Linked DNA regions of Homo sapiens. The protein of the gene in region 4 purifies or fractionates together with the protein of the main gene of each other region. This does not show direct contact. Each region holds a gene or a part of one and is shown on either strand. Other genes may lie near its edges. The genes, in order: NUDT5, MYO1F, MYO18A and PYCR2.

The links.
Region 1: the proteins of PYCR2 (region 4) and NUDT5 purify together in Homo sapiens (affinity purification with mass spectrometry; 3 studies listed by BioGRID and IntAct, with this or other methods). This does not show direct contact.
Region 2: the proteins of PYCR2 (region 4) and MYO1F purify together in Homo sapiens (affinity purification with mass spectrometry; 2 studies listed by BioGRID and IntAct, with this or other methods). This does not show direct contact.
Region 3: the proteins of PYCR2 (region 4) and MYO18A purify together in Homo sapiens (affinity purification with mass spectrometry; 3 studies listed by BioGRID and IntAct, with this or other methods). This does not show direct contact.

What each region holds. Positions count from the first base shown.
Region 1 is NC_000010.11:12,192,892-12,200,300, forward strand, and holds the start of NUDT5 (ADP-sugar pyrophosphatase), read right to left. Parts: upstream 3,001-7,409; 5' UTR 2,879-3,000; intron 1-2,878. Other genes in the region: CDC123 (translation initiation factor eIF2 assembly protein), read left to right, coding at 3,355-3,428, 5,814-5,885. UniProt on the Homo sapiens protein: Enzyme that can either act as an ADP-sugar pyrophosphatase in absence of diphosphate or catalyze the synthesis of ATP in presence of diphosphate.
Region 2 is NC_000019.10:8,567,406-8,574,491, reverse strand, and holds part of MYO1F (unconventional myosin-If), read left to right. Parts: intron 1-7,086. UniProt on the Homo sapiens protein: Myosins are actin-based motor molecules with ATPase activity. Unconventional myosins serve in intracellular movements. Their highly divergent tails are presumed to bind to membranous compartments, which would be moved relative to actin filaments.
Region 3 is NC_000017.11:29,072,350-29,079,435, reverse strand, and holds part of MYO18A (unconventional myosin-XVIIIa), read left to right. Parts: intron 1-4,521; coding exon 4,522-4,666; 3' UTR 4,667-7,086.
Region 4 is NC_000001.11:225,921,251-225,928,769, reverse strand, and holds the start of PYCR2 (pyrroline-5-carboxylate reductase 2), read left to right. Parts: upstream 1-4,519; 5' UTR 4,520-4,659; coding exon 4,660-4,726; intron 4,727-4,998; coding exon 4,999-5,069; intron 5,070-6,386; coding exon 6,387-6,566; intron 6,567-6,627; exon of another isoform or gene 6,628-6,690; coding exon 6,691-6,912; intron 6,913-7,125; coding exon 7,126-7,218; intron 7,219-7,398; coding exon 7,399-7,519. UniProt on the Homo sapiens protein: Oxidoreductase that catalyzes the last step in proline biosynthesis, which corresponds to the reduction of pyrroline-5-carboxylate to L-proline using NAD(P)H. At physiologic concentrations, has higher specific activity in the presence of NADH.

The DNA.
Region 1 (7,409 bases), on a different chromosome or scaffold from region 4:
TGTGCCATTTATGGTAAAAAATTTGGGTACCCACAATTGAATTCACTTATGGGTTTTTTTTTCATTCTCTTCAGGTGTGGCAGTTGGGTGGGCAGGGAGTAATTAACGTTTACTGAAATTATGCTACTTGGTGATCTCCAGGAATCATTTAGCAGGTGGTTTAAAATCCTCACATTTAATGCTGGTTGAGCAAGAGTGAACTGACTGTAATGACCCTTGGGAAGGTGAATTGGTTACAGACGTATAGTAACGACACTGTAAAGATAGTCCAGGCAGGAGATGACAGGTCTGGAGTAGAGTGGTAGCCGTGGCAAAGTGACATTTAATTTCCACGAAGACAGTTTTAAGGGAGACTGGGACATCGGAAGAAAAAAGGGGTGATGCAGAGCTCAAATCTGTACACGCTTGTTTGAGGTGATAGCAGACATCCAGATGAAGAAAACCAGCAGACAGGTGAAAATCTTAATCTAGGATGATTAGTCATGCTATGGATTCAGAGAAAGAAATGTGTTTTTTCATTACTTCATTAGGAATTGCACAATAAATCTCCTCCCCCATAATCACATGACTACTGACTTTTCAGCATGCAGGAGAAAAAGCAAATATTTCCACTGTTGAAAGGTTTTATTGGAGAAACTTGATGAATACAATGACTTCATGGCTTAGTGAAGACAACCACGGTGGTTAAAATACAGTGAACCCTCATTTAGCTGTATCCATTCAAAGTATTTGAGCATCTCCTATGTATAATGTCAATTTATTTGATGCTGGTTAAATGTGTAACAAGTTACTTAAAACCAACTGTAATACCAAAAAGTCATTGAACACACTTCTAAAGTATACTGCCTGAATAAAAGGTATCTATAAAAATTCCTTCCCTGTAGTATCTATATATTTAAGCTTACAAACTTAGCTGCTTTTCTACACACAACTGCAATTCTATATTAAAGCTTTGCAACTGCCTTAATCTCTACACTCTTTTTTTTTTTTTTCCCGAGACGGAAAAAAAAGAGTCTCGCTCTGTTGCCAGGCTGGAGTGCAGTGGCGCGATCTCGGCTCATCGCAACCTCCGCCTCCCGGATTCAAGCGATTCTCCTGCCTCAGCCTCCCGAGTAGCTGGGACTACAGGCATGCGCCAACACGCCCGGCTAATTTTTGATATTTTAGTAGGGACGGGGTTTCGCCATGTTGGACAGGCTGGTCAAACTCCTGACCTCAGGTGATGCGCCCGCCTCGGCCTCCCAGAGTGCTGGGATCACAGGCATGAGGCACCGCGCCCGGCCTATGCTCAAATGTTTCTTGGGCTGTTAAAGTACTGCTCCTCGCAGAAGGGCTATGTTCCCGGGATCTATTCTCTTCCGTACATTCATTCCTATCTTCATTAGAAAACATCTGACCTAAATAAATCCCCCATCGATGCTAACATCTCCTTCCGCGCAATTTTTTACTTTCTAAGTCAAATCAAAACAATTATTTGAGCGACTGCTCCTGTCTGCCATTAAGTCTTTCTGGCACCACCCTCCAGACATATATACAATATTGCTTCTTTCCCTCAAATCAGAAAGGACTGCATAGTTCCGGATCAAGGCATAAATGATGAATCATGACTGTCCATCCCCACCAACATACTCTGCAACATTATAATCTATTTACCTCTGCTTTGAAAATGTATTCTTTAAAGCACTGCTTCCAACTAGCCACTTAGCCAGTAACATTTTTGAGAAAAACAAAACACAACCCAAAACAATGTATATATTCCTGGGGGGAAGAGTTTCTAACTCAAAATACGCAGATAATTGTTTATTATTCTAAGGAACACCCTTCTGAAGAGGCCTGCAGTCGGTGGGGCTGTTTCTAATTTAAAACTACTTAGGTGAACCAGGAAGAATGTACATTTAAGGAGATACTTTTAGACGCAGATGCCTCGCGCAAGCCTAAAGCTCGTGTGGTAAGCGACACGACTAGGGGTTAAAAGCGGCTGGTTGGTAGGCCCGGGGCCGTGGCTCACGCCTTGTAAACCCAGCACTTTGGGAGGCTGAGGCGGGCAGATCACCTAAGGTTAGGAGTTCGAGACCAGCCTGGCAAATATGGTGAAACGCCGTCTCTACTAAAAACACAAAAATTAGCCGGCGTAGTGGCGCGCGCGCGCTCTCAGCTACTCGAGAAGCTAAGGCAGGAGAATCACTTAAACCCAGGAGGCGGAGGTTGCAGTGAGCCAAGATTGCGCCACTGCACTCCAATCTGGGCACAGAGTGAGACTCCGTCTCAAATAAATAAATAAAAGCAGCTAGTTACTTCTCATTCTTTTAACGAAACAAACAAAACTGAACTTTGCTGGGTGACAGGAGTGAAGCAAAGGAAAAAACGATAGTACAAGTTCGATTCGAATTCTTCCAGTCTTATGATTCGATCATCGCAGGAATACTGATAAAAATCTGCGTTTTTTCCAGGTTGACAACTTTTGCGAGGCCAGACTAAACGAATTCAGCGCTCCAAGGAGACTCCTCTTTCCTCTGCTTTCTCACATTTACCTCTCGCCTTTTACCTCCCAAAGTCGAACCCTCCAGGATCGTACAGGCGGTATTCCCTCTACCAAGCATTCTACTCCTCTGCAGATGCTGCAATCTTTACACTGGAACTAACACTTAGCTGTGGTGTTCCCCGCTTTCTTTACTCGGAGTAGCCCAGGCTCTTCCTCTCCAATCCACAATTTCCCTCCAATCCCCAGTTTCCCTCTTGGGCGCCTGGACGCGTGCCCAGCCGCAGCCTGGGAGACACCGCGCGGCTGCACGCACCATGCAGATGTGGTCCCTTTCCCCTTCTTCTTCTCCTCCCCAAAGAGGTTTTGTGCTGTGACTGGCTTGCCCCGGTTACTTACTCCAAGGTGTAGGGGTGAAGAACGGAAGAGGACGAAATAACTAGCTGGAGGCAGCAGTGTCAGCCGATGCCGGTGCCACGGCTCGAAACACCGGCGCCTCTCGCGGTGCTAAAAGGATGGGCGCGCACCCTCCTTCCGGCATCCGTAGAACCCCCGCCTTTGACCTAGCTTCAGGAGATTACTTTCCGGGTCAGCGTGCGTTTAGGGCGAAGACGGAGTTGTAAACTTCTTAAAATTCCTCTCTCGACACTTCGGTAATTCCTCTTTCGAGACTAAAGCTCTTTTTGTATGCGTGTGTGTCAAGCGTATGCCCCGGGATTCTCCTCCGCTTCCTTTTCTCGGTCTTCCTTCTTGCTTTAGGGACCGGAAGAGTCCTTGAACCAAAATAGCTCGGCGGGCACTTCCGGGGCCGGCGCCCAGAGTTCCGGGAGGGTGCAGGCAGGAGAGGGAAAGGCAGCAGCGGCGGCAGCTGGAGGATGAAGAAGGAGCATGTGCTTCACTGCCAGTTCTCCGCGTGGTACCCGTTCTTCCGAGGCGTTACCATCAAGAGGTGAGATGGGAGGGGGTTCGCCCGGTCGACCGGCAAAAGGGAACTGCGACTTCTGAGCGAATCTTACTGCTATCCAAAAAAATGCAGGCCTTCTAGCGACTGCATGGGAGGGAGTGTGTCGAGAGGGAAGTACATCAGCAATTGTCTGCGTCCTGTTGCGAGCCAGCGAGTGTGCTGGCTAGGAGGGTCAGTTGTGGTTTTCAGTGAGGGTCGGAGGCGGGAGGAATAGTGGATTAACCTAGTTTAGGCTTGGGAGTTCACCACCACTACTTTTAGAATGGCCCCAGGCGCAAGGTGATCACTGCCTAAGTGCACTCGGAGAATTAATTGCTTTTCGCCATCACCCCAGAGGATGGAGATTGGGAAGGTGAAAGGATACGTAATTACAGTTAGATACGAGAACAAGTTCACAGATATGTCGTACAGCATGGAGGCTATAGTTAATGACGATATACGTATTCTTGAAAAACGGAGAGTGGATGTTAGTGTTCTCACCACAAAAATAACTATGTTAGGCAATGCATTTGTTAGCTAAATTTATTCCACAGTGTATATATACTTAAAAACATCAGGTAGGCGGCAAGTATTAATATATACAATTTCATCTCTCAGTTTTTTTAAAGGCGTTGATAGAAAATCTGGGCTTTGCACTTAACTGATTTTCTGAGCCAACATTTCAGTAATTGCTGATTCATTATATGATGGTTTCATTCAATAAAGATCGGATATGTACTTGAAAATGTGTAACTGGCTTAGAATGGTTAAAATGTATAAGAAAAGTTTCAAGTTCTTAAATAGTATTGGAATGTGTGGTAGAACCTTAGATTCATTGTACTTAACAATTTCGCTTGTTAGCTTTGTAAGAGTAAAATACTTAGGAAGGCTTATTTGTAATCAGCAAATAGACATATTAAGAAAGAAAATTGAGTGGTTTATGAATAGAATTTAAAATTTTAAAGAGACTTTTAAGTTGCAAAGTTTCGCTTGAAATTGTTTAAAATTTAGTAGATTTTCAAACGTAATAAGATTTGTTAGAAGAAATTAAAAGCCTGAAGAACTAGATTTTTTTTTTTTGAGACAGAGTTTTGTTCTGTCGCCCAAGCTGGAGTGCAGTGGCAGCGATCTTGGCTCACTGCAAGCTTCCCTTCCCGAGTTCACGCCATTCTCCTGCCTCAGCTTCCTGAGTAGCTGGGACTACAGGCGCCCGCCACCACCCCCGGCTAATTTTTTGTATTTTTAGTAGAGGCGGGGTTTTCACCGTGTTAGCCAGGATGGTCTCGATTGCCTGACCTCGTGATCCGCCCGCCTCGGCCTCCCAAAGTGCTGGGATTACAGGTGTGAGCCACCGCGCCCGGCCAGAACTAGATTTTTGAATGTGAAATTGTACCTTTGATAAATCAAATATTTATTTTTAAAACCGAAGTTTTTGCTCTGTCGCCCAAGCTGGAGTGCAGTGGCAGTGATCTTTTATTTATTTAAAAATAAATAAAAATACTTATTTTTAAAACCGAAGTAGCCCATGAATACTCTTTTTTGTGCAAAAAAACCATTTGTAATGTGCCAAAAAAAACTTCTTCCATAAATAAATGAGACATGTTATAAGTCATTGATGTTCTGTTAACTTCGGGAAAGCAGGCTGTAATCTTTTCCACTTTTTGAAGATGTATATGCCTCAAAATCAAAATAATACCAGCACTCTTAGGGATCTGTGGTAGGGCTTTTTGATAATTTATTATTTCAAGGTAAAAAACAAATTATCCCATAAGTTTTTAAGAGACTTCAGGTATGGCTTTGCCATCCTTAATTATGATTACCTGAAACAAATTAAGCTAAAGCATGCCTAGTTTAAGCAGCTTTATATCTCTGGTGATCAGTTGAATAGAAAGCCAGCAAGACACATCCAAAAGTATCATGAATTCTTAGCGGTAGGTGCTCACTGCCAACCCAAGAATGGTTTCCAGATCTTGACTCTACTTCTGCCCTCTATCTTTAGAAGGTGACCAAATGCTAGTCATCTTCTAGTTGGGTTTGCTGCATTTCCTGTGTTGCAGCAAATATCTGCTGGTCTCTGATTTCTTAAAGACACATAAATGTTGTGCTCACTCAGAATCCTTTTGAGCTTGTTGCTTTCATACTGTGATTTCCATCTGGTGGTTTGGATTTGGCTGGTTTTTGTTTACTACAAAGACCATTGTGGCAATAAGATGAACCGCAGTAATCTTATTATTCTGATTTCTTGTCTACTGCTACCAAATGTACATCATTAACATTTTCTACTTTATATTAAAAGAAAGACAATTCCAAAATTAATCAAGTGTAGAGATTTTTCTCTCTGCTTATAGTTGGTCTTTTAAAATGATGCCTTTTTTGGTGTTTTTTTTTTAGTGTCATTCTTCCACTTCCTCAGAATGTGAAGGATTATTTACTCGATGATGGAACTCTGGTGGTTTCAGGAAGGTAAAGTATTTTAGAAAAAAATTTCTTAAACTTTATCATAAAGAAACACATAAAATGAATGAATTAGCTTAGGCACCATTCTTTCCCTTTAGCTCTTTTTCTCTCCTAGCCAAAATGATGTGCTGATCTTTGTCTCATATTCCTTCTCAATGTTCACTTAATATTTTCAACATTAAGTACTTTTCCCTCTAATAATTACAAGTTGTGAAATTGAGCAGTTCCTTTCATCTCTGTCTTTAGAAAACAGTTATGATGACAACTTTTCCTTCTGACGGTAGCAGGGTGGGGGAAGTACATATTAAAATTCTTTGAGATCCTTCAGTTTTGACGATTAAAAATTCACTGTTGCAAACAGGCTTTATCATCTAATTCCTCAACATTTTCTTCCCCACGATTGAACTACCGTGGCCCCCCCTCCACTTTCTAGAAGCTGTTCAGGTAGTTTCCCTATTTATAGAATAAAGGGAAGAAGTTACTGTGTTTCAGTCTTTTGGATGCAAACTTGAAAACGTTGAAGAATCATAGGATTTAGTGAAGTTCTCATTTTTTAATTCGAGTCTGCTCAGAAGTCACGTTATGAGTGTTCAGCCCTCACCAGCCTTTCTAAAATAGCCTGACAGTAACCCTATGCCCTGACCTCCCTTCATTTTTCTGCATAACACTTACTTCCACCTGACAATTGTTAATTGTTCCATTAGAATGCAGTTTCATGAAAACAGGGACTTGGCCCATTTGTTCACCCCAGCTCATGGAACAGTGCCTGATATAGCAGAAGTGCTTGATAAACATTTGTTGGATGAAGGAACTATAGAAATACAGTAAGAATTGTGTGTTTTCAGTACTACTAACTGGACCCCATATTTTTGCCTGTTGGGTTTTTAGTGTGGTTTTCTGGATTATATTTCTGTTTTTGGTATTCACAGAGCCTCAATAACCTGAAAATTATTAATGTAGCGCCTCATTAACTTTGAATAATTTGAGGCTGAGGAAACAGTAGGAAAGTCAGATAAGTCTCAACTTTAGGATATTTACAGATATAATTTTTTTTGTTTTGTTTTTCTTTTGAGACAGAGTCTCGCTCTGTCACCCAGGCTGGAGTGCAGTGGCGTGATCTCAGCTCACTTCAAGGTCTGCCTCCCGGGTTCACGCTATTCTCCTGCCTCAGCCTCCAAGTAGCTGGGACTACAGGCGCCCACCACCACGCCTGGCTAATTTTTTTTATTTTTAGTAGAGATGGGGTTTTACTGTCTTAGCCAGGATGGTCTTGATCTCCTGACCTCGTGATCTGGCTGCCTCGGCCTCCCAAAGTGCTGGGATTATAGGCCTGAGCCACCGCACTCGGCATTTTTTTTTTTTTTTTTTTTTTTAAAGATGGAGTCTTGCTCTGTCAGCCAGGCTGGAGTGCAGTGGCTCAATCTCAGCTCACTGCAATCTCTGCCTCCCAGGTTCAAGTGATTTTCTTGCTACAGCCTCCCAACTAGCTGGGACAACAGGTGTGCGCCACCACATCCAGCTAATTTTTGT
Region 2 (7,086 bases), on a different chromosome or scaffold from region 4:
TCTAATGCCCCGCTCCATGGTCCATGGAAAAATTGTCTTCCATTAAACCGGTCTCTGGTGCCAAAAATGTTGGGGACCATTGCTTTACAGAGCACATAACATGCACTTGATCCATGGTAGCTGCCATTAGCTGGGATGTCCATTCATTTCTGGATTCAGCAATGAGGATGGACGGAGGTGACGATTGTGGTAATTGGGGAGGAGTTGCTGCGAGTGGTCATTGCTGGGTTGTTGGTGTCATTGGTTGTGGTGGTGGTTGTGGCTGTTTCTTGTTGCAGGTTCGTGGTGATAATGGCTCTTGCAGGTGGGCTGGTGGTGGTGGCGGTTGGTGTTTAATGTTGTTCGTTGGTGGTGGATTGTTTTCAGCTGGAAATTCTGGAGATGCTTGGTGACCAGTGGAATGATGACCATCGGTGGTTGCTGTTATTTGGAGAGGAAAGGTGTTGGTAGTAGCGTTCATTTGCTGCTGGTAGTTTATTGTTGGTTTCTGGTAAGATGATGATCAGCAATGGTGGTGCTGGTTCAATGTTGGGTTTTGAACAGGATAGGACTGGTGACTGCTGCTTTCTGTGGTTGCTAATGGTAGTTGGTTATGTGTGGTTGTTGATGGCTAGTATTGTTTTTTTGTTTTGTTTTGTTTCTGAGACAGAGTCTCGCTCTGTCACCCCGGCTGGAGTGCAGTGGTGCAATCTCGGCTCACTGCAACCTCCACCTCCTGGCTTCAAGCAATTCTCGTGCCTCAGCCTCCCAAGTAGCTGAGATTACAAGCACCTGCCACCACACCCAGCTAATTTTTGTGCTTTTAGTGGAGACGGGGTTTCGCCATGTTGGCCAGGCTGGTCTCCAACTCCTAACCTCAAGTGATCCACCCGCTTTGGCCTCCCAAAGTGTGAGATTACAGGTGTGAGCCACTGTGCCTGGCCGATGACTAGATGGTGGTTGGTTATTATAGCGTGGTGGTGGTGGTGGTGGTGATCGTGGGAGAATGTAAGGAAGGCTGATGCTGGAATTGCTCATGGGACCTGTCTGACATTGGCTAGTCATGATGGTATTGGAGTTATCAGCAGTTTCTGTTTGTCTTTGAGAAGGGTAGGAGAGAGAGTGAAGACGTTCACTGGTTGCCTTTGGTTGGTGATGGTGGTCATGTGAGGATAATAGTGATTGTCTCTTCTTTTTTTTTTGAGACAGAGTCTCGCTCTGTCACCCAGGATGGAGTGCAGTGGCATGATCTTGGCTCACTGCAAGCCCCACCTCCTAGGTTCATGCCATTCTCCTGCCTCAGCCTCCCGAGTAGCTGGGACTACAGGCGCCCGCCACCATGCCTGGCTAATTTTTTTCTATTTTTTTAGTAGAGATGGGGTTTCACCGTGTTAGCAAGGATGGTCTCGATCTCCTGACCTCGTGATCTGCCCGCCTCAGCCTCCCAAAGTGCTGGGATTATAGGCGTGAGCCACCACACCTGGCCAATAGTGATTGTTTCTAAGGTACAGTCACAGGGCCAGGAACAATGGCTCATGCCTGTAATCCCAACAGTTTGGAAGACGGAGGTGGGAGGATCACTTGAGGCCAGATGTTCGAGACCAGCCTGGGAGACATGGCAATACCCCATCTCTACAAAGCATTTAAAAGTTAGCCAGGCATGGTGGCATGGACCTGTAGTACCAGCTAATTGGGAAGCTGAGGTGGGAAGATCACTTGAGCCCAGGAGTTCCAGGCTGCAGTGAGCTGTGATGGCCCCACTGCACTCCAGCCTGAGCAACAGAGACAGACTCTGTTTCTAAACAAATAAATAAGATACAGCCACAAAGCAGGGAGACCAGTGAAGTGGCTGCTGGGTCCAGAATCAGTGGCCATGAGGATGGACAGGAAAGGCTGGGAGTCAAAAGGAATTTAGGAGAAAGAATCAGTTAAGACCACTAACTGGGCACGGGCACAGTGGCTCACACCTGTAATCCCAGCACTTTAGGAGGCCGAGGCAGGTGGATCACTTGAGGTCAGGTGTTCGAGACCAGTCTGGCCACCATGGTGAAACCCCATCTCTACTAAAAATACAAAAATTAGCCAAGCGGGGTGGCATGTGCCTGTAATCCCAGCTACTCAGGAGGCTGAGGCAGCAGAATCGCTTGAACCCGAGAGGCAGAGGTTGCAGTGAGCTGAGATCGCACCACTACACTCCAGCTTGGGCAACAGAGCGAGACTCTGTCTCAGAGGGGAAAAAAAAATGCCCATAATTGATTGGATGCAAAGAGTGAACGTAACAATGAATCAGAGACAGGCAGGTTTCTGTCTTGGGGGTTGGGGACCACATCCCAGAGGATCTTCCCCAAAAAGCAGGAGGGACAAGACCAGGGTTCCCCAGCTCCAGCTTCTGCGTGGAGATGTTTGAGACGGTAGCCACCGACTGTCAGCAATCTCCAGCGACGAGACAAAGAGCCCAGCTCCAGAAAGACAAGGGTCCCCACGTATAAAGGCCAGGCGCGGTGGCTTACGCCTGTAATCCCAATACTTTAGGAGGCCGAGGCGTGCGGATCACGAAGTCAGGAGATCGAGACCATCCTGGCTAACACAGTGAAACCCCGTCTCTAAAAATACAGGGGCTGGGCGCGGTGGCTTACACCTATAATCCCAGCACTTTGGGAGGCCGAGGCGGGCAGATCATGAGGTCAGGAGATCGAGACCATCCTGGCTAACATGGTGAAACCCCGTCTCTACTAAAAATACAAAAAATTACCCAGGCGTGGTGGCGGGTGCCTGTAGTCCCAGCTACTTGGGAGGCTGAGGCAGAAGAATGGCGTGAACTCGGGAGGCAGAGCTTGCAGTGAGCCGAGATGGCGCCACTGCACTCCAGCCTGGGTGAGAGAGCAAGACTCCGTCTCAAAACAATAAAAATACAAAAATACAAAAAAAAAATTAGCCGGGCGCGGTGGCGGGCGCCTGTAGTCCCAGCTACTCGGGAGGCTGAGGCAGGAGAATCGCTTGAACCCAGGAGGTGGAGGTTGCAGTGAGCCGAGATCATGCCACTGCACTCCAGCCTGGGCAACAGAGTGAGATTCCATCTAAAAAAAAAAAAGAGAGAGAGAGAGAAAAGAAAAGAAACAGAGTCCAGTCCCCCTGCTCCCCTGAGGGATGGAGCCTTTGGAGGTGAGAATGTTGTTTGCACAGTGCATGGACGCAGGGTGTGGCCCCAGAGCCCCACTGAGCTGGGGGCAAGGCTCCAGGGCCACCCTCAGGCACCAGGGCAGGGTCTGGGAGCTGAGAGCTGGCTCCAGAAGCAGCTACGGAGGCTTAGCTCTCCTCCCGGCAACCACAGCTCGCAGGACCTGGGTGAGGAAGGAAGTGGCTGTTTGTTTGCTGTCTTCAATCTAGAGCTCTTGCTCATCACGCCCAGAAAAAGCAGACAGCCTGGAGCCCATGGGGTGAGTTGCAAAAGCTCCCTCCTCCAGCCCTTCCTCCTGGCCAGCTCATGGCCACCATTGATGGGGACAGTGAGGAACGCTAGCATTTACACTGGACAACCTTTGCTTCGTTGAATCTGCAGAGCAGCCTGTGAGATTTGCACCCCTCGATGTTCCCATTTTCCGAATGAGGAAACTGAGGCAGAGAGGTTAGGTGAGCTGCCCAATCTAAAATGAAAGAGGATTTTGACTCAGTGACTCCCAAGGCCACACTATTAACAGCCATCTTGGCCGGGCACAGCGGCTTGCACCTGTAATTCCAGCGCTTTGGGAGGCCAAGGCAAGAGGATCAGCAGTCCAGGAGTTTGAGACCAGCCTAAGCAACATAGTTAGACTTTGTCTCTATTTAAAAAAAAAAAAATGTGGTTGGGTGCGGTGGCTCATCCCAGTGCCCGTCATTCCAGCACTTTGGGAGGTCAAGGCGGGCAGATCACTTGGGGTCAGGAGTTCAAGACCAGCCTGGCCAACGTGGTGAAACCCTGTCTCTACTAAAAACACAAAAATTAGCCAGGTGTGGTGGCGTGCACCTGTAATCCCAGCTACTCAGGAGGCTAAGGCAGGAGAATTGCTTGAACCTGGGAGGCAGAGGTTGAGCCAAGGTCATGCCACTGCACTCACAGACTGAGCAACAAGAGCGAGACTCCATCTCAAATAAAAAAAAAAATGTGGCTGGGTGCAGTGGCTCACGCCTATAATCCCAGCACTTTGGGAGGCCGAGATGAGTGGATTGCCTGAGGTCAGGAGTTCGAGACCAGCCTGGCCAACATGATGAAACCTGGTCTCTACTAAAAATACAAAAATTAGCCAGGCGTTGTGCACGCCTGTAATCCCAGCTACTTGGGAGGCTGAGGCAGGAGAATCACTTGAACCTGGGAGGCAGAGGTTGCAGTAAGCCTAGATCATGCCGCTGCACTCCAGCCTGAACAACAGAGCAAGACTCCATCTCAAAAAAAAAAAAATGTATTAGCCAGGCGTGGTAGTATGCACCTGTGGTCCCAGCTACTCAGGAGGCTGAGGCAGGAGGATTCGCTTGAGCCTGGGAGGTCAAGGCTGCAGTGATATCAAACCACTGCCTTCCAACCTGGGCAACAGAACAAGACTCTGTCCAAAAAAAATAACAGGCACCTTGACCACAGCCTCCTGTCCTCCTAAGCAATGAGAGGCCAGCAGGACTATGTGCTGACCCCACATGGCCTGGGCTGTCTATCCCTCCAGGACCATGACCCTCCATTCCAAACAGACTAGAATCCTGGTGTCCACCACACACCCAAGGCCTCTCTGGCTGATGTCTCTTGCAGCCACCACTGATGCTGCCTGGAAAGTTCATGTTGCAAGACGTGCCTTCTACAGGAAGCCCTCTCACCTCTCCACAGTACTTTCCAGCCATGGTCTCCTCTGGGCAACTGAGACACCACTTGGGGAACACCGAGCCCCCCAAGGGCAGGTTCTGGGCCTGGTCCACCTAAGCCTGGTCTCCACCTACCTCCATGCACAGTAGGGGCCCAGGAAGTGTGTTCCCTCCATGGCACACATCCCCCAGCCCCATAGGCACCATCACCTTCACCACAAACAGCCCCTCCCTGGTGTGATACCAGGAAGGTTGTCCCCGCCTGCCCTAGTTCTGCCTTCAGCCTTGGGGTAGAGAGACCTCTCTGAAGAGCTGAAGGAAGAAGCTACCCGTCCTTCCTACCCCACCCACCTCAAGCCCCTGACTGCCTTTCACAAGAGCTCCAGCAGGTTGAGTCATATTCAGCTTGTGGTCAACTGTGACCACAAGCTCTTCGTTGCATCCCCACCCCCAAGGAAGAGACTTACAAACAAACAGTTTTGACTTGACCCATGGAGACTTGGAGGCCACAGAATGAGAGAGATATCTGGGAGACAGGGCAGGGGGCAGTCTCATCCCAATAGGACTTCATTCATTCATTCATTCATTCAACAAGTATGTATTGACCAGGCTTTCTGTCCAACACTGATGCCTTAAATCCTCTCAAGGTCACAGATGACATTTCCTGAGGCATCTCGGCGCATTTTTTCTCTTTGTTCGCTCCTGTACTTGTTTCAGAGACCCCACACAAGGGTCATTATGGAATCCATTTGGTTATTTGTTGTTGTTGAGATGGAGTCTCGCTCTGTTGCCCAGGCTGGAGTGCAATGACGTAATCTTGGCTCACTGCAACCTCCACCTCCTAGGTTCAAGCAATTCCCCTGCCTCAGCCTCCCGGATAGCTAAGACTACAGACACCCGCCACCACGCCGGGCTAATTTTTGTATTTTTAGTAGAGATGAGGTTTCACCATGTTGGCCAGGCTGGTCTTGAACTCCTGACCTCAAGTGATCTGCCTGCCTCGCCTCCAAAAGTGCTGGGATTACAGGCGTGAGCCACCATGCGCGGCCAAATCCACTTGCAAAGAGGAGAAACTGAGGCTTGGAGAAGAGAAGTGACCTCCCCAGAGTCACACAGTCAGTCAACTGTCAAGCCAGGCTTTGACCCCAATCCATCACATGCCAAAATTCTCGACTATCCTCCCCACACGATATTCACTTGAGCAAAACCCTCTCTCCCTTCGATGCAAACAGCCTGTGATTAATTTTTTTTTTTTTTTTTTTTTTTGAGACGGAGTCTCACTCTTTCACCCAGGCCGGACTGCAGTGGCACCATCTCAGCTCACTGCAAGCTCCGCCTCCCAGGTTCACGCCATTCTCCTGCCTCAGCCTCCCGAGGAGCTGGGACTACGGGCGCCCGCCACCGCACCTGGCTAATTTTTTGTAGTTTTAGTAGAGACGGGGTTTCACCGTGTTAGCCAGGATAGTCTCGATCTCCTGACCTCGTGATCCACCCACCTCGGCCTCCCAAAGTGCTGGGATCACAGGTGTGAGCCACCGTGCCCGGCCCAGCCTGTGATTTTACAGGTGGCTGGAGCATGGAGTGTCTGAGGGCCTCTAGTGCCTGGGGCAGGATAGAGAGGGAGAGAATGGTCAGAGAAGAGGGCCACTCTGCCAGATGAGGAAAGAGGGGAAGGGCAGGAAGAGGAACCAAGTCGTCAGAGCCGGGAGAGCCAGGAGGGCTGATGGGCCTAGCCAGACACAGCTGACCCCAGTGAGGGGAAGTGGCCTGGGGTCTTAGTTCAGCCTGAGTGGCCTGGCAGGCTGAAGCCTGCACTGGCCCCCAAAGGGGAAATTGTAGACATGACCCATCTTCTCCCCAACCCATCCTCATCTGACCTCAGCAGCAACCCCGGCGATCTCTGATACAGACCAGCCTGGGGAAGGACAGCTTCGTGGGTCCTCCCCAAGGTCCTCTCTGCACTGCTGTGTGTCCTTGAAGAGGACACTTAACCTCTCTGTGCTGTAGTTTTCTCTTCTATAAAATGGACCCAGGATGGGTGCGGTGGCTCACGCCTATAATCCCAGCACTTTGCGAGGCCGAGGTGGGAGGATCACCTGAGGTTGGGAGTTCGAGATGAGCGTGCCCAACGCGGTAAAACCTTGTCTCTACTAAAAATACAAAAATCAGCCAGGCGCCTGTAATCCCAGCTACTCAAGAGGCTGAGGCAGGAGAATCGCTTGAACCCAGGAGGTGGAGGTTGCAGTGAGCTGAGATCGTGCCACTGCACTCCAGCCTGGGTGC
Region 3 (7,086 bases), on a different chromosome or scaffold from region 4:
TCCCTCACAGTAACTCCGTAACAAAGTCTGATTAGCTCTGTTTCATAGAAGATGAAGCTGAGGCTTGGAGAGGTTAAGTCACTTGCCATGTGGTCACGCACAGCTGGGAAGGGTTGTTGCCAGGGTCTGAATGGGGTCTGCCCAACTCCAGCACTCTTGCCCTTACCCACTCCTCCAGGCAGCCAGTGCAGAGCACATGGGCAACATGTTTACTGTGTGTGCCCAGCAGCACCCATTCAGGAGCTTTCATTCATGGCCCCAACAGGCTGGGGCCAGGAAAGGTCCCAAGCTATACCCCAGCTGTGGTTGGTGCACATCAGTGGCCCTAAGCTATTATTGGGCCTTTTGCTTAGCTCTCCCTCCCCTACCCTGCCCCCACAAAGCTACCTTCCTCTCTGGCATAGATCTCAAGCCTAGGAGTACAAGGCTCCCAGGGCTACAGCCCACACAGCGCCACACCCTACAGCAGACCCAGGAGATGCCTGACTCCCTCCCCAGCCCTCCCACCAAAGGCCCACACATGGGCGTCACCTTGGTTCTACTCATCTTGTAAAGTTCTAATGAATAGAAATTAGCAACTGCTGAGTGACAGCCTCCCCCTGGCTCTCCTGCCTCCCCCAGCTCTTCTCCCTGTGGGGAGGGAGATCTAGCAGTTAGGCCCTTTATGCCCACACCCCCACCATGGAAGAAGGGCAGAGCCTGACTCATTGGAATCCCATTGTTGCCAGTTTCTCTGGTGCGTGGTGACATTTTAGATCACCCTGCTTATGTGAAGCTGTTTTTGGCATGCTGCCCTCCCAGGGCAAGCTTGCTGCTTCCCAGGAGGTATGTCCCCCGAGTGCAGCCCCTGGGGCACAGACATTTGTCTCCCAGATGCATGAACTAACACACCTGTCGCATGCTTGTGCTGTGGAGCGGCTGGACACCTAGGCTGACTTTGAATGGATTATACCAAACGGACTGATGTAAGACCTTTTAAGGAATGGAGCAAGTGGAATGGCTCAGCCCTGCTCTGTCACTTCCCCCATGCAGCAGATGGTTACTGGGTGCTCTGGGAGGAACAGGAAGCATCTCTGTTGTACCAAGGAACCAGTGTTGGCTCCATAGTAAGACAAGAGTCAGCCGAGCATGGTTATTCACACCTGTAATCCCAGCACTTTGGGAGGCTGAGGCAGACAGATCACCTGAGGTTAGGAGTTGAGACCAGCCTGGCCAAGATGGTGAAACCCCGTCTCTACTAAAAATACAAAAATTAGCTGGGCGTGGTGGCGCATGCCTATAGTCCCAGCTACTTGGGAGGCAGAGGCAGGAGAATCGCTTGAACCCGGGAGGCTCGGAGGTTGCAATGAACCGAGATCGCACCACTGCACTCCAGCCTGGGCTACAGAGCGAGACTCCATCTCAAAAAATATATATATATATGAGTCAATATTTGATCAGGCATCTCAGCCTTCCTCTTAGCAGCCCTGCTAAGTGCCCCACACCCCTAGGGCAGGAAGTCAGCTGATGGACCTGGGAGAGGGGTTTGGAAAGCAAAGAGGGCCAGGCCTTGTTGCACACTGCGCCTCTACCCCCAGATGGACATGGGCCTAAAGCTGGGCCATCCCACACTGACTGGCAACTGGCAGATTTCAGACCCCAATGCCCTCAGCCCACCATCACCCTTGACCCCACAACCAGCAATAACAAAAAGACCAAAAGCCTGTTTCTTCCACCAGCCACCAGCGCAGTTCCTCTTTTCCACCAGGAAAGCTGGAGTAGTCCTGACGCCATATATACCACCCGCTCCAAGGAGGATTGGATTCACTGTTGGTAGAGTGGCCATCAAGCCAGAACCTAGCCAACCAACACGGAGCCAGAGGGAGAAGGCCAGGGGAGGGAGGACCTCAGTGGTGCTCAGCATCAACTGGCTTTGGGGTGGGGGCATGGGATGGAGCAGTCACTTAGCTTCCCATCTGGTGATGAGGACCAGCAAGAATTTGCAACAGGAACGCAGCTTCCATAGCAAAGTCAAGGGGAGGGGAGCTGCCGCCCTGGGCTTGCCTGGCAGGAATTAGCTTATGTACCAAATTGTTTGTGACAGTGCTGAGCAGGAGACGCTGGCTTGTGAGGAGGAAGGCTTTTTTAAACAATTTGGTTAAAATGTTCAAATTGCCAGCTCTGACTCTTGCCCTGGAGAGGAGGGCAGCGGCCTGCTGTTGACTCCCTGATGGCTGGAGCAGTGGAAGCCACTAAGAATGGCTAAAGATCACCCAAGCTACGGGCAAGGGCAATCTCGTGGGTCCGCAGCCCAAGGCAGAGAGAGACATGGAGTTTACCACCTCCCCGGCAGCTCCTGCCACTGCCCAGCGTCTTGATGAAACAGTATGGAAACACGGCTGTCATTTATCCAGGTGTCTGCCTAGCAGGTACAGGAATGTGGGCTTGGGGACTGGAGCCCCCACCTTAAAAAGAGGTGAGGCAATGGAAAGGACCAGAGGGGCCCTGATTCAGCAATTTACAGTGCCTTGGAGCTCGCCAGCAGCACCTCATTTGCATCTGGATTCCAGCCCTGGCATCTGCCTCGCCCCGCTCTGCTCACAAAGTAACCCCACTGTCTTTCCACAAAGCCAGGCACTCCTTAGCCTAACGGCAGATCCTAGCCCTGAGTGCCCAGAAATTCTATGTAAAGAATGAGAACCAAACCAGGCTCCCACTAATTTAGAATTCAAACAACCCCAAAGCTAAAATAACCCCAATTTTTTTCTATATTGCATAGTCATCAGTGAGCTTTATAATTTTGTCCTAGAAACCCCCCCAGAGTCCCTAAGTGCCTTTGGCCTATCAAAGTAAGACTCATTTATGTTCAGTCTAGTTTGTGTTAAATGTGTTTTGTGCTATCCTGATTCCTTTAAAAATGGTAATTCATTCATGAGAAATACGATAACTATTAACCAGACTGCCCCATTCCTGAACCATTTTGCATAATTGAACATGTATTCTATCAGCCTCTTCCTTTCCCCCAGGGATAGAGACCGACCTTTCTTTACATAACCCCTGGGCACTTGCCCAAGCCAGCAGGAGAATTCAGGTTTGGTCCTTTTTTTTTTTTTTTTTTTTTAATCTCAGGTCAACCAATCGAGTGGCGGGGTGAAGTCGTCCAAAGTCTTTGAGGTCTAAGAGTCCCAGATTCAAGTTTACATACTGGCTGTGTGGCCTTGGGGAAGATCCTTTCATCTCTTTGGACTGGCTTCCTCGTAATATTTCATAGGGTTATTGTGAAGAGTAAGATAGCCTATCTCACATGCCTAGGCCGTGTCTTACACATAGGAGTACTCAGTGACCAAATCTTGCCCTCTGCATCTCTCACTGCCACCTTGGGAAAAGCTAAGAAGGTGGTTCTTGCCGCAGAACGCTGACTCCTCCTATTTTGGTTTGGGGATAGAACTTTAAAAGGGCTAGTAAACAAAGGTCCCTTTTCAGCTTAAGTCAGAATTATAGGCAGCAGGGAACATGGAACTCCTGCTTGCCCAAGTTGGAACTCTAGGATCTGGAGGCAGGGCTGCAGCTCCAGGGACCACGCCGAGTGTGGGGCATCAGTAGGAGAGGAGCCACACTGGGCTGTGTTTTCTCCAATGGTGTTGAAACGAGAGTGCACTTGAACTGACGGAGGCAGTGGAGGCAGGAGGAGTACGGGAAAGGTGGCCCCAAGGCTTTGGGAGAAAGAAAAGAGAAGGTGAATGGAGCTGTGAGATGAGGTCCCCTCTTCCCTGTTCAGTGCTGTGATCCTGCTCCATCAGGGGGAAGAGGCCTCTTCACATCTGGGATAGCTGGAGGCCTCCAGAGCCAGAGGCCTGATGAAGACTCTGAGTTATGTTATTGTACCAAGAAAGGGGCTTTTCCCCTTGGGCCATCCTAAAACAGGTCTTCCCAGCCTCTCCTTCCTGAGCCTCCATTTCTTGTTAGTAGATGATGGCATGGTCAAAGCTGAAAATTCTCACAGGCCTCAGGGAGCCATCATTAGGGGAAAGGGTTCAGATCTGGGAGTATTTGACAGGGAAAGCGCCTCCTCCTCAGAAGGAATCTTTTTAGGAATCACTCGCCTAAGAGAGCCCCTACCCTAGACAAGTTGTACTCACCAGACCTCCAGTCTCCAAGCCAATGTGGTTCACGGACTGCCTGCTTCAGAGCCTTCTGGGGAAGGACTGAAAATGCAGAATTACTGGGTTGTACCCAAAAGCCAGCGATTCAAGGTTTCTAAGAGGAAGGGCCCAGGAACCTGCATCAGATTCTTATGCACGCTTGAGTCCGAGACTCACTGCTCTCAGCATCCCTTTCCTCGGAGCTTTAAAAGCTTCCAGAGTCTCCTTCCTCTTAGCATTTTGAGTATCTTCTAAGTAAGCCAAGGAAGGTTTTTACTTAACAATGTTTGGCTTTTGGGGAGTGCTCTGACGCAGCTTTGTGGGCCTCCAGAACCAAAGGCGTGCGTGCTTAATGGTAGGAGTGTCATTTGTCCCTAACCTTATTCCTCGGTCCCTGCAGCCCCACCAGCTACTGGAAGTCCCTTGCCCCTGATCGGTCAGATGATGAGCACGACCCTCTCGACAACACCTCCAGACCGCGATACTCCCACAGTTATCTGAGTGACAGCGACACAGAGGCCAAGCTGACGGAGACTAACGCATAGCCCAGGGGAGTGGTTGGCAGCCCTCTCACCCCAGGGCCTGTGGCTGCCTGGGCACCTCTCCCAGGAAGTGGTGGGGCACCGGTCTCCCCCACCCGACTGCTGATCTGCATGGGAAACACCCTGACCTTCTTCTGTCAGGGGCACTTTCCAGGCTATGGGTGTCTGATGTCTCCACGTGGAAGAGGTGGGGGAAAGAGGAGTTTCTGAAGAGAACTTTTTGCTCCTCTGTCTCAAAATGCCAGACTCTTGGCTTCTACCCTGTGTCACCGTGGGCAGTGGCAGGTGGCCTGGCACTGCATGGAGCCAGCACGTTGACCTCCCTCTCAGCTCCCTGCTCAGGGACGGTGGACAGGTTGCCTACTGGGACACTCTAGGTTGCTGGGTCCATGGGGAGGATTGGGGGAGGAGAAGCAGTGCCTTCCCTCTCGTGTGGGGTGGGGGCTCTCTCTTCTTGGTGCCTGCTGTCTTTCTACTTTTTAATTTAAATACCCAACCTCTCCATCACAGCTGCATCCCTGAGAGTGGGAGGGGGCTGTAGTGGTAGCTGGGGCTCCCAAGAACGACTCGGGAATGTCATCTCCATCTTCACCCTTCAGAGAGCAGTCCTTTCTCTGTGCAGCTGGAGACGCTGGTGAGGAGAGCCGGGTCCAGGTTCTTAAGAATGAGGTGCGGAGGGGCTCTCCGGTGCTGCTGGGCTGGGTTGAGCAAGCCTACGCAGACAAGTGTGTGTGTGGACCATCCGCACCTCCAGCCCCCACCCCACCCTCTTTGTCTCAGCGTGTTATGTGCAATGACCTATTTAAGGTAAACCCATTCCAACTACAGCAGTTCAGGGCTGATCCAAGCACTGCCTCCCTCCTGCTCTGTCCAGGTGGTCTGGACCATAAACTCAACTTGAGAGGGAAGGCTTGGGGTTGAGGACTTGTGATCAGAAAAACTGAAGATGGAAGTTTTGGCCGGTGCTCATTAGACATGAGTCCTCACTCTGTGTCCTGAGCCCGTGTCATTCTTCCAACCTCCCTGCCCCCACACACTTATCCCAGACACAACACCATGTGGTCTGGAGGTCCCAGCCCCCACCCTAAAAAGGTTATCCCTGAGAACTCCACCAGACTTGGGAGCCCAAGTGCAGTGCCTGGTGCTGCTCCCATCTGCCGCCCCCCTTCTCTCCTGCAATTGGTTTGTACTCACTGGGCTGTGCTCTCCCCTGTTTACCCGATGTATGGAAATAAAGGCCCTTTTCCTCCTGGCTGCGCCAGTTTTCCTGCCTGTTCCTTCAGGCTCAGGCAAAGTCTGGATTGGTCCTGGGGGTGGTGGGCAGAGGCAGGATTCTGATGGGGACCGTGAGGGCATCACCCTGGTCTCTGGCCTGCTCCCCAAAGTGTCAGACCAGTGCCACTTAAAGAGCCTAGGCAGCTCATTTTGGGGCAGGCAGAGGTAGTGGAATGAGGGGATTGGCCAAGGAAGACACAAGCCCCACCTTTTATGTGAAGAGCCTAGGGACTGTGATTCAGGTTAGCAAGGGTGGCAGAGACTCCAAGCCTCATCCTCCCTAGCCTCCACAAGGGAATGTTGAGGTCCCTCTGATTGTTAAATCTCACCAATTACAGAGATTCTCTTCTCTTCTCTTCTCTTCCTCCTTCCGTCCCTCCCTCTCTCCCTCTCTCTCTCTCTTTCTTTCTTTCATTCTCTTTCTTTTTGGATTCAAGCCCTTCTCATTAGAACATTTTTTAAAAGCTTAATTTTAGCCATTTCAAAGGTGACTTTTTGATCAAAACTTGGCAGAACTAGCTCGGGCCCACAGGGCAATGTGAATAGGTTGGGAGTGCTGTCTCTGCCCTGCTCGGTCCCTGTCTTCATGCCCTACTCCATGCTTTGTTCCTTCATTGACAGCTAAGAGGCAGCTCATGCAGAAAGGCAAGAAACAAATGACACCCCTCCTCCTCTTCTACCTTCTACCTTCTCATTCTGTAGTGTGGCCAGTTATAATCCCTGAATGAATAAAGTAGTTTGGACAGATGGGTGGGAAAAAATAGCAAACAGCCCAAGTGCCGAGGCTCTGATAATGTCAGCCATCCAGAAAGAGTCCAAAAGGGAAGAAGGGAGAAAAGTCTCCCCCAAAATGAATGGGACAGAGTGTGAAGTGGATCTGTCTCGAACAGAGACTGCCCCCTCCATTGCCCCACGATAGAACAGAGAAGAGGATAGAAACAATAGTAAAAGGGAAGTTACTTGTCTTTTGGAGACAGAGTCTTGCTATGTCGCCCAAGCTGGAATGCAGTGGCATGATCTCAACTCACTGCAACCTCTACCTCCCGAGGTTCAAGCGATTCTCCTGCCTAAACCCTCCGAGTAGCTGGGACTTAACAGACGTGTACCACCACGCCTGGCTAATTTTTGTATTTTTAATAGAGACGGGG
Region 4 (7,519 bases):
AAAGAATGCAAAAATGCACTCAAAAATGCGCCTCTTTGGAGAGGCTCCTAGGACAGGGAGGATTGAGGGCCAAGGCACTTGCCATCTGTTTATCTGGGAGCAGCACAGGCTTCTCTCTCATTTCCTAGGTCATCTCAGTTCTTAGGAGAGACTGGCCTGCTGTTTAGAGATAGGAGAGACTGGCCTGCTGTTTAGAGGGAGGCCCTGAGGCCCTGATAGTGAAGAAGCAGAAGTAGACAGAAGTGAAGCAGTATCCATTTTGTCTGAGACAGCTGGAGAGGGCCATCAGGCAGGACAGAGGGGAGTGAAGAGGGAGGAAGGGTACAAACAGCAGAACCTGACTGGTGGATGAGAGGATGGGAGTAGAGGGGTGAAGGTGGGCAGTCCTGGCAGCTTTGTGGACGTGTCTGCTCCGAGACAGCAAAAGGATAGTGGGTGCCCAAGGAGACAAGTGCCAGCAGGGACTGAGCATGTCCCATGGCAGGATGGCAGTGCAAGGCTGGGGTGTCCTTTAGGGTGGCTGGATGGGAACGAAGGGCTTCCCCTCTCCTCTCCTCAACTTCAGTTCAGAGGAACTCCACAGGCATCAGATGTGACTGCCTTAGAAACCAAGGCAGTGGCCACAGCACCAAGGAAATGGGACGTTAGAGTCAGCAAGGTCATTAAAAGAGAATAAAATGGTCTTACCTATATTTAAAATAGGTAACAGGCTGGGTGCGGTGGCTCATGCCTGTAATCCTAACACTGGGAGGCCAAGGAGGGAGGATTGCTTGAGGTCAAGAGTTCAAGATCAACCTAGACTAACATAGTGAGACCCCGTCTCTATTTTATATATATATTTTATATATACATATATTTGGGTTTTTTTTGTTTTCTTACTTTGTTTTTATTTTTTGTTGTTTTCTTTTCTCTTTTGCTCTTTTTTATTTCCATCTTATATTTTTAAAAAATAAAATATAATAGATTTTGTATATATAAACTTTAAACTTTGGAGATGAAAAAATAATAGATCAAAACTACCACAAAAAAGAACAGTTTGTGGTCAGTGGCTCACTTGCTGCCCTAAGTCCAAACTGAGGGGAGCAAGTGCTTTTGCTACTCCGTGTCTTATGTGGCCAGTCCTGGCTGGGGATGAAGCCAACACTGGGGGTCACCAACATGGCCTCTTTTTTTTTTTTTTTTTTTTTTTTAGACAGAGTCTCACACTGTCACTCAGCCTGGAGTGCAGTGGCACAATCTTGGCTCACTGCAATCTCCACCTCCCAGGTTCAAGCAATTCCCCTGTCTCAGCCTCCTGAGTAGCTGAGATTATAGGTGCCCGCCACCACATCCGGCTAATTTTTTGTATTTTTAGTAGAGATGGGGTTTCACCATGTTGGCCAGGCTGGTCTCGAACTCCTGACCTCAGGTGGTCCATTCGCCTCAGCCTCCCAAAGTTCTGGGATTACAGGTGTGAGCCACCGCACCCGGCCATCCTTTCTTAGGCTTTTGCAGTTCTCCCATTTCACCCTGGCTCCCGGAAGCGGAAACGGGAGATATCAACGCAAGGCAACCAGGTAAGGGATGGGTGTATGTAAGGGGTCAGAAAGGAGTGAGACACAAGTGTCCCCCACACCTCACTCCAAAACACACATTCAGCTTCAGCACAACCTCCTGTATTGCAGGTCAGATCCAGAGCTCCCCACAACAGACCACAGCCAGGAAAAGCAAAGGGCCCTGCAGTGCCCTGGTGGACTATGGGGAGGGTGAGTATCCTGCAGAGGAGCAGGCAGCATTAGGAAGTTGTGAAGGAGGGTAAACCCCCAACTTCCTCACTACCTGACAAAGACTCCTCTACAACAAAAGGGAGGCCAAATGCAGGCAAACAGAAATGAGACAAAGAGAAGAGGGGAAGTGCTGGCAGCGCAGTGTTCTAGTTCCATTCCTGAGGTCCTGCTCTCTGTAGGTGCCCCTTCTGGTCTGTGAGCTCCCCTGTGCCTCTCCCAAGCGCTGTACAGAAGCCCCCCTTTTCCTTCAGCCAGTTTGGTTTCTGCTGGGTTTCTGGTTTCAGAGCTTTACGCTGGTAACCATTAGGCTATGCTGCAACATGGCAGCTATGGGAGCTCTTAAAGCCCCAAACCACTGGACCTTACAAATCTCACTTCTGGGAGTCATGTTAAGAAAATAATGAGTCAGGCAAAGATTTTATCACAATAATATGAACAAAAATTTAAAAAATTGAAGGCCAGGAGTGGTGGCTCATGTCTGTGATCCCAGCACTTTGGGAGGCTGAGGCGGGTGGATCACCTGAGGTCAGGAGTTGGAGACCAGCCTGGCCAACATGGTGAAACCCCATCTCTACTAAAAATACAAAAATTGGCCAGGCGTGGTGACACATGCCTGTAATCCCAGGTACTCGGAAGGCTGAGACAGGAGAATCGCTTGAACCCGGGAGATGGAGGTTGCAGTGAGCCGAGATCATGCCACTTCACTCCAGCCTGGGTAACAAAGACTCCGTCTCAAAAATAAATAAATAAATAAAAATAAGAAATAATAATAAATTGATGTTTTATGAGGACAGGAACTTGTCTGTTTTGTTCATAGCTATACTCCCAGAACCTGGCTCAGTAAGTTATCTATTATATAAATCAATAAACCTAACATTGACCTTTGAATGGTTAAATCAGTAAGGTACATACATATAATAAGTAGTCATTAAAACTGTCTTAAATAACTTTTCAGTGACATTGGAAAATGCTCATGTCTACTAGAGAAATTTCAAAACTACATGTACATCATTTATTTCCAATGATGGAGAAAGTAGATATGCATAGGACATGATAGTGTAAGGAAATACACCAAAAATGTTTGTAAGAAACTATCTTTGGGAAGTATGATGTGGATGATTTTATTTTTACTTTTATCTCCAAACTTTCTTCAATATGTCTGTATTACTTTTCGAATTTAAAAAATACAGAGGCCAGGTGCTGTGGCTCACGCCTGTAATCCCAGCACTTTGGGAGGCTGAGACAGGCAGATCACCTCAGGTCGGGAGTTCAAGATCAGCCTGACCAACATGGAGAAACCCTGTCTCTACTAAAAATACAAAAAATTAGCCGGGCGTGGTGGCGCATGCCTGTAATCCCAGCTACTCAGGAGGCTGAAGCAGGAGAATCGCTTGAACCCGGGAGGTGGAGGTTGCAGTGAGCCGAGATCGTGCCATTGCACTCCAGCCTGGGCAACAAGAGCGAAACTCTGTCTCAATAAATAAATAAATAAATAAATAAATAAAACATAGCATTATTTTGCTTAATAGTAAATATTATATTTGGTCCTCACTTTAAAGGGTGCACAAACTGAGGGCCTGGGGACTTGCTCAGGGAAGTTCACAGAAAGCAGCCCCTTGCCTGGGAGTGGGGGTGTGCATTACACGGAAAGGACTAGAAAAGCTAGCAGAGAGACCATGGGAACTAAGGGTCCTCAGCTCTTCTGAGTCCTCTAGGAACGCCACCTTCTTCCTCTCTACTTCTGTCATTTGTTCCCTGCGGCCCCTTATATTTACTACTGATAGAAAAGGAAACATCACATTGGTGGAGCTTTTAAAAGCAAGAGACAGGTCGGGCGCGGTGGCTCACGCTTATAATCCCAGCACTTTGGGAGGCCGAGGCGGGCGGATAACCTGATGTCAGGAGTTGAAGACCAGCCTGAACAACATGGTGAAACCCCGTCTCTACTAAAAATACAAAAATTATCCGGTCGTGGTAGCGGGCGCCTGTAATCCCAGCTACTGGGGAGGCTGAGGCAGGAGAATCGCTTGAACCCGGGAGGCGGAGATTGCAGTGAGCCGAGATCGTGCCACTGCACTCCATCCTGGGCAACAAGAGTGAAACTCCGTCTCAAAAAAAAAAAGGCAAGTGACAGCAAGGGGCTGGGGGGTGCGGGATCGCGGAAGAGTCGGAGACTCGAACTTGTCCTTCTTGTATCTAGTTTGGACAAATTCGCGAGAAACACTCAAGTTCAAGTGAATAAGCCGCGGCTGACCACCCTGGTGCCGCCTCGCCGCCACCTGGTCTGAACCTCGCCGCCACCTGGTCTGAACCTACGCCAGGAGGGCCTCGTTCATCCCCGCAAATCGGCAACCTGGAGAATTCCTGTGGGCCTTGAGGGGCATCTGATGGCCAGCGCCAGAAATAATATTAGCCAGGCCTGGGCCAGGCCTCAGCCCTGAGCCCGAGGTGGCTTAGGGACGGCGACCTCAGCCTTGGGGTGGGGGGGGGGGGTGGGGGCGGCCGGGCGTCCTGGGCCGGCGGGCGCCTGGAGCTCACGCCAAGCTGCCACAGGGGCTTCCGGGACTCCAGCCCGGAGTTCCGCCCTCCAGTCGCGAGCGGAGGAGGCGGGCACGCGGCCTGGCTCGGGCCGCGGATTGGCCTGCCCCGAGATCCTGGCCACTGATTGGTCGCCCGGACGGGGCGGGGCCACGTGGCCTAAGGCGCCATCAGCCGCCCGGGAGATATCCGCCGGGGGAGAATAGGGTTGCACCATCCCAGAAGCTGCTGTTAGCTCGCCGGTCCTCGGCACGCCGCCCGTTCGCCCCTGCGCTGTCCGCCCTTCCCCTAGCGTTACTTCCGGTCCCTCGCTGAGGGGGTTCGTGCGGCTCCCAGGAGGCGTGAACCGCGGACCATGAGCGTGGGCTTCATCGGGGCCGGCCAGCTGGCCTATGCTCTGGCGCGGGGCTTCACGGCCGCAGGCAAGCGCGTGGAGGCGGGAGGCGGCTTCGCGGGCGGTCCCGAGGCCCGAGGGGGCCTCCGTCCCACCAGCATGAGCGAATGAAAGGGGAGTTTGCGTCCGGTGGGGTAGATGAGACTCTGGTTGAGCAGCAAGTGCGTCTTCTGTCCTCGTAGAGGGTTGAGGGGGAGAGGGAGACTGGCACTGTTAGGACGGCTCTGGGTTTTAGAGCCAGGGAAAGCGTGGTAACGGGCTGGGCCGCGACCCCTAGTTGAAAAGCTCTGTCTTCTGCAGGCATCCTGTCGGCTCACAAGATAATAGCCAGCTCCCCAGAAATGAACCTGCCCACGGTGTCCGCGCTCAGGGTAGGTGGAGCCGGGCGGAGTGGGAAGCGGGTGGAGGCCCAGGAAAAGGATGACCTGAGATGAAGTGAGTCTGGCCGGCCCCTGCGCCCAAGTGCTGGTCTTTGGCCGGCGGTGACCTTTACTCCAGGAACGTGACAATCTTTCCACCTTCTCTTGGGCAGCTCAATGTGGTGGGAACACCCAGGGAGACATAACTGGGGGTCAGATCCAGACACTGGAGTGGTAGAGGATTAACTGAGGTGATTATGTGATGAAAGCACCTGGCACATAGTAGGTACCTAATAAATACTCATTTTTTAAATTTTTTTTCAGACAGGGTCTTACTCTGTCGCCCAAGCTGGAGTGCAGTGGCGCGATCTCAGCTCACTGTAACCTCCGCCTCCCACCTCAGCCTCCCACCTCAGCCTCCCGAGTAGCTGGAATTACAGGCATCCACCACGCGCAGCTAATTTTTGTATTTTTGGTAGAGAATACTGTTGGCCAGGCTGGTCTCGAACTCCTGGCCTCAAGTGATCTGCCCGCCTTGGCCTCCCAAAGTGCTGGGATTACAGGGGTGAGCCACTGCGCTCAGCCATTTTTCTTAATAGACGAGTTGTATGACCTTAAAGTACTCAGCCACTTTGAGGCTATTTCCTCATTTACAACAGTGGCCACTTTGCTGTTATTCTGAGTCGTGAATGAGCATATTGGGAAGAATCTGGTGAGTTAGTTGTTCTGTTCTCCAAAAACATATTCCAAGTCTTCACCCAAAACCTGTGCTCTGTGGGAGAGGATGGCTGATGAGGCAGGTGACAGGCAGTGTCTGTGCCTAGGGTGGGCTGATGTCCCTAGCACTGGAGGGTCCTGCTTCTCAGTTTGGAGTCATAGAGGGATGGATGGCTTCCAGCCTAGCCCTGGACCACATGGAGACTGTGCGGTCCCCACGAACAAGCGGCCAGGGTTAGGATAGGGCCTGACTCAGCTGTGCTTTTAACGACCAGGTATTAGCATTTCCCTTTGCCCTGCCACTTTCACCATAGGGCCTTCTTACCTGGCAGAGGAGTGCCTTAGATACCAGAAGATTGGCAGGGAAGAAGGGCAGCCACTTCCTGGTTACCATGGAGAAGCTTGTCATGCTCCAAGCCTGTGCTTACTTGTCCAGTAGCAACAATGGGAAACTGTATTATTTGGGGTAGGGGTAGAACCCTGAGGGCATAAAGCTAAGAATTCCAGGCTGCATCTGGCAGAATCGGTTTGGCAGGGGTTCAGCTGCTCCCTGGGAGGCCTTGGCATAGCCAGGCTGCTCCAGCACTGTGAGCTGGGAGTCTCCTCTTGCAGAAGATGGGTGTGAACCTGACACGCAGCAACAAGGAGACGGTGAAGCACAGCGACGTCCTGTTTCTGGCTGTGAAGCCACATATCATCCCCTTCATCCTGGATGAGATTGGGGCCGACGTGCAAGCCAGACACATCGTGGTCTCCTGTGCGGCTGGTGTCACCATCAGCTCTGTGGAGAAGGTGCCCATCTCAGCCCTGATGCCCCTTGTGTGAGGGGAGGGTTGACCCACGAATGGCAGCTAATGGGTGGGTGCTGGTGGGAGCCGTGCCCTGGCCACTCATTCGGCTCTCTCCCTCACCCTAGAAGCTGATGGCATTCCAGCCAGCCCCCAAAGTGATTCGCTGCATGACCAACACACCTGTGGTAGTGCAGGAAGGCGCTACAGTGTACGCCACGGGCACCCATGCCCTGGTGGAGGATGGGCAGCTCCTGGAGCAGCTCATGAGCAGCGTGGGCTTCTGCACTGAGGTGGAAGAGGACCTCATCGATGCCGTCACGGGGCTCAGTGGCAGCGGGCCTGCCTATGTGAGGCCCTCATTTGCTCGCTCAGCCTTCTAGGAACCCAGGCAGCAAGATGGGCTGGCAGGCAGGCTTGGACTGGGGGTGGCGCCCACCTCTTGGGCACAGCTGGCTGGTACAGGATGCTGACCCTTGGAGCTAGTTCTAGTCATCAGAAAGCAGACCTAAGGAAAGGCCCTTCAGTGCCTATGGCCTGGGGCTTAGTGAGTGTCTCCACAGGCATTCATGGCTCTGGACGCATTGGCTGATGGTGGGGTGAAGATGGGTTTGCCACGGCGCCTGGCAATCCAACTCGGGGCCCAGGCTTTGCTGGTCAGTATCTTTCCCCCGCATGTTCAGGACCAGGGTGTAGAATGGGGGTTCTTGTGCATCACTGAACTGAGGTGGGAGTTGGTTGGGAAGCTGGGGTAGCAGTTGGGCAGGAGCAGTGGGTATGGGAAGCCTGTTCCAACGCACACCAGCAACTTTCTCCTAATGTGCCCTTCCCCATAGGGAGCTGCCAAGATGCTGCTGGACTCGGAGCAGCATCCATGCCAGCTTAAGGACAATGTCTGCTCCCCTGGGGGAGCCACCATCCACGCCCTGCACTTTCTAGAGAGTGGGGGCTTCCGCT